2 separate regions of the Homo sapiens genome follow, and region 2 is linked to region 1. The links come from fine-mapping of genetic effects on gene expression. Tissue or cell type: whole blood. Region 1 holds a variant in brackets; the other region holds the start of a gene. All regions are shown on one strand. Distances are between the middles of the regions.

Evidence for each region. PIP is the estimated chance that this variant, and not a neighbour inherited with it, causes the effect.
Region 2: CLK3-AS1 starts here. The variant in region 1 is fine-mapped to the expression of CLK3-AS1 in whole blood (TOPMed, PIP 0.92).

What each region holds. Positions count from the first base shown.
Region 1 is chr15:74,707,375-74,711,533 of GRCh38, reverse strand. No RefSeq gene overlaps it. Among named protein-coding and RNA genes, the nearest start is that of EDC3, 13 kb to the right of the region's middle. The variant A/G (reference allele first, on the strand shown) is at 1,835.
Region 2 is chr15:74,614,194-74,618,352 of GRCh38, reverse strand. It overlaps CLK3-AS1 (CLK3 antisense RNA 1), which reads left to right and starts at 2,561. Exons shown (of 9, transcript XR_007064715.1): 1 at 2,561-4,159. CLK3 (CDC like kinase 3) reads right to left here and starts at 2,517. Exons shown (of 13, transcript NM_001130028.2): 1 at 2,455-2,517. RefSeq lists enhancers at 1,152-1,762, 1,763-2,374 and silencers at 2,463-3,002, 3,423-3,742.

The DNA of each region.
Region 1 (4,159 bases):
ACTGTGCCCAGCCTCTGTCCATTTTTTTCTTTTCAGTTATTGGTCTTTTTCCTATTTATTACTTGGGACTCTTTATATATTCAGATTAGATATTTGTCTGTGATGTGAAAATATTTTTCCCTGTTTGTATTTTGACTTTTTGAATATGGTGGCTTTTAATATGGATAGGTTTTTTTTATGTAGTAGAATTTCTTAATCTTTTCTGTTATGGTTTTTGGATTTTTGAACGACAATTAAGGAGGTCTTCTCAATTCCAAGATTATATGGAATTTTTACAATCAGGTATTCTGTTTTAAAGTCCAGTACTCTGTTCATTCTATGGTATGATGCCTCTCATACCATAGAATTTTTACAGCAGATTTAATTCGGGGAAAAAATTAACAGTTATTTTGAATTATGTGGCTTATGGCAGGGTAAGTTCCTTACAAACCAACCCTCCTACAGATAACAAATGTAATTTTGGGGCAAAACACACACACACACAAAACTCCTTGAAGGTTTTGGAGAGTAAACAAAAGCCTGCTCCATCAGAATAAATCTGTATCCATTCCTAGCCAAATCATAGCCAAAGGATGACAGGAAGAAGAAGAGTCAATGTGAGATCAGGCTGCATAGGCTGCTATGGTTAATCCAGGAAGTCTGTAGGTCTCCACAGAGGAGAGAGTATCTAAGGGTTTCCTCAGTGACTCAAAAACGGTTTGGCAGCTTCCATACAGGGCCCCAATTTCATCTGGAAAATGGGGGGCCCAGGAGTGCCTATCTAGCTTGTTTAAGGAGCGAAGGACACAGAGAGTTCCAAAGGAGATGCTGGATCTCCCATTCCAAGCCTGGGAACCACCTCCAGCACCACCCACCTTTAAAAGCCTTCTTGAAACTGACACTGGCTGTCGGCCTACAACAAATGTTAACTATTTCCCAGAGGGACTGGGAGCAGTATGAGTGGTTTGCTACCCTGACTTATGACAAGAAGCCTGGCCTGGGTTCTAGCCCTGGGACCTGGTCAACTTCTTCCCAGCACAGAGTGGCCTTTAGCCACTTGCTGGTTTTTCTTGTTACTTCCTGTGTCATTGTGGCCCAATTTTATTTCCTTCCTGTATTTATTCCCTTTACAAAGTGACTTTACATATCCTCCTGTGAAAATGTATGGTCTGTTTTCCCCCTCCTTGAATCTGGGCTGGCCTGGTGACTTGCCTTGATCAGTCCAATGCATTGGAGGTGATGGCATGCTAGTTTTGAGGCCAGGTCTTAAGAGACCTCATCGACCTTTACCTTCTCTTGGAATCCTGCCACGACCACAACAACAAACCCAGGGAGCCTGCTGGAAGATAAAAGACCATATGAAACAGAGAGGAATTGCCCTGGTTGAGGCCACCATAGACCAGCCAGACTCTAGCCAACTTCCTTGAGTGAGTCCAGCCAAGATCAGCCAGTCCCACCCCAATCAGCAGTATACCCACCTAAACCACAGACTAGTGAGCTCAGTACATGGTTGTTATTTTAAGCCACTAAATTTTGGGTTAGTTGTTACAAAGCAATGGACAATTGATACCCTGTGTTAATTTGGTTTCCCTGGATGAGCCATAAGCTTCTTCAGGGCACGTCAGTTTTTTTTTAAATTTAATTTTTGAACCATGTATGGTTTGAATATGTATGGTTCATACAATTTTTGAACCATACATGACACTTAAATGGGGCAGGTCAATTTCTTTGTTGCCTCCATCCCAGCTCCTAGCACTGGGATTGAGCACATTTTGGGCATTACATAAAGACTTGTTGATTGCTGGGTGTGATGGCTAATGCTTGTAATCTCAGCACTTTGGGAGGCTGAGGCAGG[A/G]GAACTGCTTGAGCCCAGGAGTTTGAGACCAGCCTGGGCAACATAGTGAGACTCCTTGGGCAACATGGTGAGATTATCTCTACCAAAAAATACAAAAAAAAAAAAAAAAAAGAGGCAGGAAGATCGCTTGAGCTTGGGAGGTCAAGTCTGCAATAAGCCATGATCATGACAGCACTCCCACCTGGGCAACAGAGCAAAACCCTGTCTTAAAAAAGAAAGAAGGAAAAAGAAGGAGAAGGAGAAGAAGAAAAGATTTGTTGATGAATCAGGTCTTCACTAGAAACTGTCTTGGTTGATTGGGTGACTTTGAGAATACTGTTTTGCCTCCCTGGATAAATGTATTTGTCTCTTGTTCATATCTCTGTTTACTCTTTTCAAGAACTGGATTAGGAATGAATAAAGATGTCAATCTCCATGTCGAAACTTTTCCAGAGCATCTCCTGGTGGGATCTGTGAAGACTGAGTCTTATGAAGACTGAGTCATAAGAAGACTTGATCTACTTTATTATAAATGCAGAAAAATTGTGAAACAGGTCTTGTGAAACATTTTTGGGTTTAATCACCATTTGTTTAAATGCTTTTACCCAGCATGCAAAATAATTCATTCACTTTCCACTTTTCTCTGTACTTCTCTTGCAGGGGGAATGTCAGATGTCAGATATTTCAGGATGTAAGACTGAAGTGTGTGGTAGTGGAGGCAGACGGGTCCCTCAGAGAACAAGGCAGCAAATAAGTATACACCTTGCAATTTTCATCCATCTGGGTTGTGGGTAACACACAGAAGTGCCCTGGACTCCTAAATACCCTGCAGAGTGGTCTAACCCTTGTGATGCTTGGGGAGGACACCTGGCTTCTAGGTCCCCAGGAATACACGGAATCTAGAAGGGAGCCCATGTTCTGTGCTATTTCCCATGATGACCCTGGAAGCTTCCCCAACCCACCCCCTCTCCTCCACCATCTGGGCTTGTGTCTGGTCCAGTTCTGTGCCTGCACAGCAAGATCATCTCTCCTGAATACTTTAATAGTTGGCTTGCAGGTCCAGGTAAGGAAAACCAAGAGCCACTTGTCTTCACGCAGCCCCTCAGGCTTGCCTGTGAAGCTGAGAGGAGATGGGGAAGCTGGCACTCCTGAAACGGTTAAAAGCCCCAGCACAGGAGTAAGAAGTGGCAACTCACTGGCATTTCTGAAAAGGCTAATTGTTGCTGAGCCAGTTGTTCTCTAAATGTGTATCCCAGGAGGGGAATGGGAGAGGGCAGACAGCAGAGGTCAAGCGGCTGGAGCTGGGAGGGGCCACACACCTGAGGCAGGGCTGCTGCCACAGCAGTGACAGCTGTCTGTTCTCTTCTCAGATGTCTTTTTTTTTTGAGATGGAGTTTCGCTCTTGTTGCCCAGGTTGGAGTGCAATGGCGCGATCTCCGTTCACCGCAACCTTCGCCTGCTGGGTTCAAGCGATTCTTTTGCCTCAGCCTCCTGAGGTGCGTGCTATCATGCACGGCTGATTTTTGTATTTTTAGTAGAGATGGGTTTTCACCATGTTGGCCAGGCTGGTCTCAAACTCCTGACCTCAGGTGATCCACCTGCCTTGGCCTCCCAAAGTGCTGGGATTACAGGTATGAGCCACCATGCCCAGCCTCAGATGTCTTTTCAAATTGGCAACACACGTGCCTCTATTAGCTAGCATCGTTCTGGATTCCCCCTTGTTCTTTTTTTTCTTAATTTTTAATTTTTTTTTTTTGAGACAGGGTCTTGCTCTGTCACCCAGGTTGGAATGCAGTGGCATGATTTTGGTTCACTGCAACCTCGACCTCCTGGTCTCAAGCAACCCTCCCACCTCAGTCTCCCAAGTAGCTGGGACTACAGGCGCATGCCACCATGCCTGGCTAATTTTTGTATTTTTTGTAGAGATGGGGTCTTGCTGTGTTGCCCAGGCTGGTCTCAAACTCCTGAGCTCAAGTGATCTGCCTGCTTCGGCCTCCTGAAGTGCTGGGATTATAGGCGTGAGCCACCGCACCAGCCCACTCTCCCTCCCCATCCCGTTCTTTATGTTCAATATCCATCCCTGCTCCAGTTTTAATTAAGAGAATTCTCTCTAGTTTAGACATAGAGAATGGAGCATGAGAAAGCAGGCCAAGGAAGAAGCAAGGATTACAGGATGTTGTGGGAAGGGTGCAGCAGGAGGGAGGGCATAAGGGAGAGAGGCATGCTGTTGTGGATGGGTGGAGGAAACAAACAAGAATCCTTGAGGTCAGGTCCTCATCCAGCCTCATCTGCTGGGATTCAGGATCCCCACTTACTGCACCTGACTACTGTTTCATGCCTAAACTT
Region 2 (4,159 bases), 93 kb after region 1:
CCCCACCTCACTATCCCTGTTCAGTGAGGACTTATATCCACCAAATGAAATTGCCAGGCTGGATCTGCCACCAGCGGAGAAAGCTGGCCATGTGAGGCCAGCAACCTGCTCCACCCATACGTCAATCCCTGACTGCCTCCATGGAGCCAGCCTTCTTCCCAACACTCACACTTGGCCACAGCCAACCTCCAGTCATGGTCAGTCCTGAGCTTGCCTGGCCAAGCACATTTTGTACAAACCCACTGAGGCTGCCCCATCTCACCAGCAGGGTCTGTCAGGAGAAAAGCAGCATAGAACAGCTCCCCATGCTTGAGCAGGACAGTGAGGCCTATGTGACCAAACCCCTGGGAGCCTCTCCGTGTCCCTAAGAAAGCCCTCCATCTCCCCACTAACTTGTCTTCCCCCGTGTACCTGGGAAGTCTTTGGAGATAAATATTTTGTGAAATCACCTCCCCAAAAGCTTAGATTTGTTGTTTTGGTAATCAGCTGACTAATATTTCACTGTTTTCCTGCAATTACTCTGGGTCAGGTGCCCAAGCTATGGAATGAAAGCAGGAACTCACACCCCACTAATTGACCCAGAAGATGCTCTATTGGCCAGGGCACATGTCGTGCCACAAGGCAAGTATGGTCCTGCCCATCCTCACTGGGCAGACAAACACCAGAGCTGGAGGACACAGTCACAGTCACACCACGCCAAAGACTACCTCCTGGGACCTAGAAGATTCTTATGTCCATACATATTCACATCAATGGAAAACAAAATTTCAGAGTCATATAGATGTCAATCTGAATCATGGCTTGCCACTTCTAGCTGTGTGCCTTTGAACAAATTATTACACTACTCTGACCGTCAGCTTCATCTTGCAACAAGGGAATAGTAATCTCTTACAAGGTTCTGTGAGGATTAAATATCTCTCTCCTATAAGTGAAATGCCTAGCACAGCTTTGTGCCCACAGAGGTACTAGTGGCAGCTTTTCATGAACATCTGAAAGTTCCAGGTAACACTTCAGGGCTGTGTTAAATGCCTTACAGACATTTTATAAGTCCCTTCCAAGGAAACTGGGAGGCAAGAGCTCTGGCAGAAAACTAAACTAAATCCTAGTGCTGTCACATACCAGCCTCATGACCTTAGACAAGTCACTCTAGGCCTTGGTTAGCATGCCTGGAAAATGGAGATAACATCTCTCAGCCTGGCAAAAGAGATGACAAGCATGAGAGTTATAAGGTACCACACACAAAGCAATAACAGAGAAGAGTATCCTTCCTTTAACACATTCTAGGCAAGTAAAATATTGGAAATAGCAGATATCATCCTCCCAGCCAGGGCTCTAGGGCCCATTTCTCAATTATCTCTGATTCTCGAAAACCTCAGCAAACAGCTTGTTTAAAAAGCAGCTAAAGGCCACAATTATGCTTTGGGAAGCTCTGCTCTGCACAATGAGGAAAAAGGTGATATGAAGAAAACCAAGCCAAGGATGTCAACTTTGAGCACAGGCCTTGTCGGCTTCTCATTTGCTGTTCCTGGCCAGAGAACTGGGCTGACTAGAAGTGCAGCCAGCCAGGTCAGCGGCTGCCCTCCCGGATTCCAGCCACCCCAGCACCCATGGTTATTTTTGGCTGGACTGCCCTACCACTGCAACCTCAAACCTGCCACCTCGCAAGCCTCCACCACCAACGGTGAAACGCTCCTCCTTTTCAAGGGCATCAAGAAGGGAAGCTGGAAGGCCGCCAACTCCGCCTCTGATGGGGGCCTGGTTCAGGCAATTTCCACCCCAGCTCCACATCAGGGCACCCACACCCGGAACTAAAGCTAGAGACTCCCGGGCGGGACGGAGGAGCAGCCAGGGGATTTGAACTGTCAGCTTGGCCTAGCCCATCCTCCGGGCTGGAGTGGCTCTACCACCACAACAAAACACACAGGGGAGCCTGCGCCCTCGTTCGCGTCCCTTCCTGCCGCCCCAGGTCCCAGGGGGTCTCAGAGTCCCATCCCCTGTAACCGCCACCAGTGGCGCCGAGGGGAGACCCGGGGACAGAGGGAAAGCCGGACTGGGCCAGAATCAAACTCCAGGCCGCCAAGGGAGGAGTCATCTGCGGACTAAGCCTGAAGCCAGGGGTAGGGGAGGGGTCTGAAGGGCTTCTCTGGCTCTTCTACGTCGGACCCCGACCCCATTCCGCGGGCAGGCACAGAGCCCAAACTGGACCCTTGAGCGGCCCCAGAGGCCGTTCAGGCTCCGCCTTCAACACCGTGGGGTCGAGGTCAGGGTCTGCAGTGACCGCCCTCCGGGGCAGAAGCAGCGGGTCAGGGGTGAGAGGTCGCGGCCCGATATGGGCCGAAGAGGAGAAAGAAAGGGAGTAGGCCGAGACCGAATGGCACCAGCGCGCCTGCCCCGCCGACTCACCCCCGGCCGCCGCCGCCGCTGTCGCCGCCGCGGACCCCAGCCCACACTTACCGTCTCCCAGGCTCCGGCTGCAGCTAGGCCCCACTCCCCGCTCCGAGCGCCTCTTCCGCTTCCGGCTGCGACCTCCGCCCGTGGCAGCCCCGCCCCCTCGCGTGACGCAGCCGTCGCCAGCCTCGGCTCGACCCGGCTCGGAGGCCTGGCCGCTCTAGCCCCCGACTCGAAGGCTCCGGGGCACCAGCCCTCTCCGCTCCGGCGGGCGCCGCGGCCTAGGAGACTAGTTCCGGGAGGGCCGAGGGGACGAGCCTGGCCCGGCCCGCCTCCCGCCGTGTCGCGGCGCACGTAGGTCCCCCGACCTGACAGGTGCGCGGCCCGGGCCGGCTGGGCTCTCAGAGCCGAGAGGTGGGGCCCCGACCTGGCCGTGGGGCTGGGCCCGCTCCGTCGCCCCGACCCCGCGTGGTCCGCCAACTCCCTCCTGCGCGCGGAGAGGACGGGCATTGTTCTCGGGGCCCCGGAGAGCGCGAGAGCGGCCTGAGGTCTGTGTGCCGGAGCTCGGGAAGGCGGACGCGACTCCGCTTGCGCGAAACGAGCGAACGACACATTATTATCTTGGTGTGTGCGGGTTTTTTGAAAGCCGTGGTGGCGCTCCCAGCTCGCCAGTGCGTGCGGGGCAGTTTCTGGGAAGATACCCTAGAGCTACTCTGGCGGGGCCGGAGTCTGGAGGGAGGAGATCCCCTCTCCTTGAGCCCCCTCCTGTGGAGCGGCTTCCTGCCGGCCTGCGTGGCCTCTCAGTTAAGACTCCCCCGCTAGACAAAAGCCCCGCCGGCTGCGTCTCTGGGCCACTGGACAGCCCCCTTTTGCAGAGGCCTCGAGCGTGGGGTCACCAAAATCCCTGACACCTACTGTCCCGCGCCGGGTCGGACAGGATTACGAGGCCCCACTTTCCAGATGAGAAAACTGAGGTGGGGATCTTTTGAGACCTCACTGTGAGCGTGCGCGTCCCGCCCGGTCTGGGAGTGGCGTCCCCGGCCTCGCGAGCGTCGCGCAGTGAAGCGACAGGGCGTGGCGCCTAATTGTCCCCACGCCACGCGAGGGCTAGAAACCCGCAGTCGGGGCGGACCATCCCTCCAGGCACCGCCCCCTCCTTGGGACCGCTCCGCGGGGGCGCCAAGGGTTTCCCCAGCACCGCCCCGGCGGCCGCCAGCCAGCCGCGGCCCCGCCCATGCCCCTCCCCGCGGGTCTGGGCCCGCCCCTGAAGCGGGGAGGTGTCGCAGGGGAGCCCCCCGCTTCCGAGCTGCGGCTGCGCATCAAGTCCTTCGCCAGCGGCTCTCCCTGAAACGGGGGGTTTCAAGGCGTGATTTGTAGGGGTGTTTAGTATCCCCTAAATCTCTGCCAGCTCCACCATGGCTATCCGAAGTAAACAACAGAAGCTAATTCAAAACTGGGTCCCCTTCCAAAAAATTACAAAAATTAGCCGGACTGGGTGGCGCATGCCTGTAGTTCCAGCTCCTTGCAGGGGACTGAGGCAGGAGGATCGCTTGATCCCAGGAGGTTGAGATTGCAGTGAGCTATGATCACACCACTGCACTCCAGCCTGGTCGACAGAAGGAGACCCTGTCTCAAAAAATAAACAAAAAATCGGCCAAGCGCGGTGGTTCACCCCTCTAATCCCAGTACTTTGGGAGGCTGAGGTGGATGATCACCTGAGGTCAGGAATTCGAGACCAGTCTGGCCAACATGGCGAAACCCCGTCTCTACT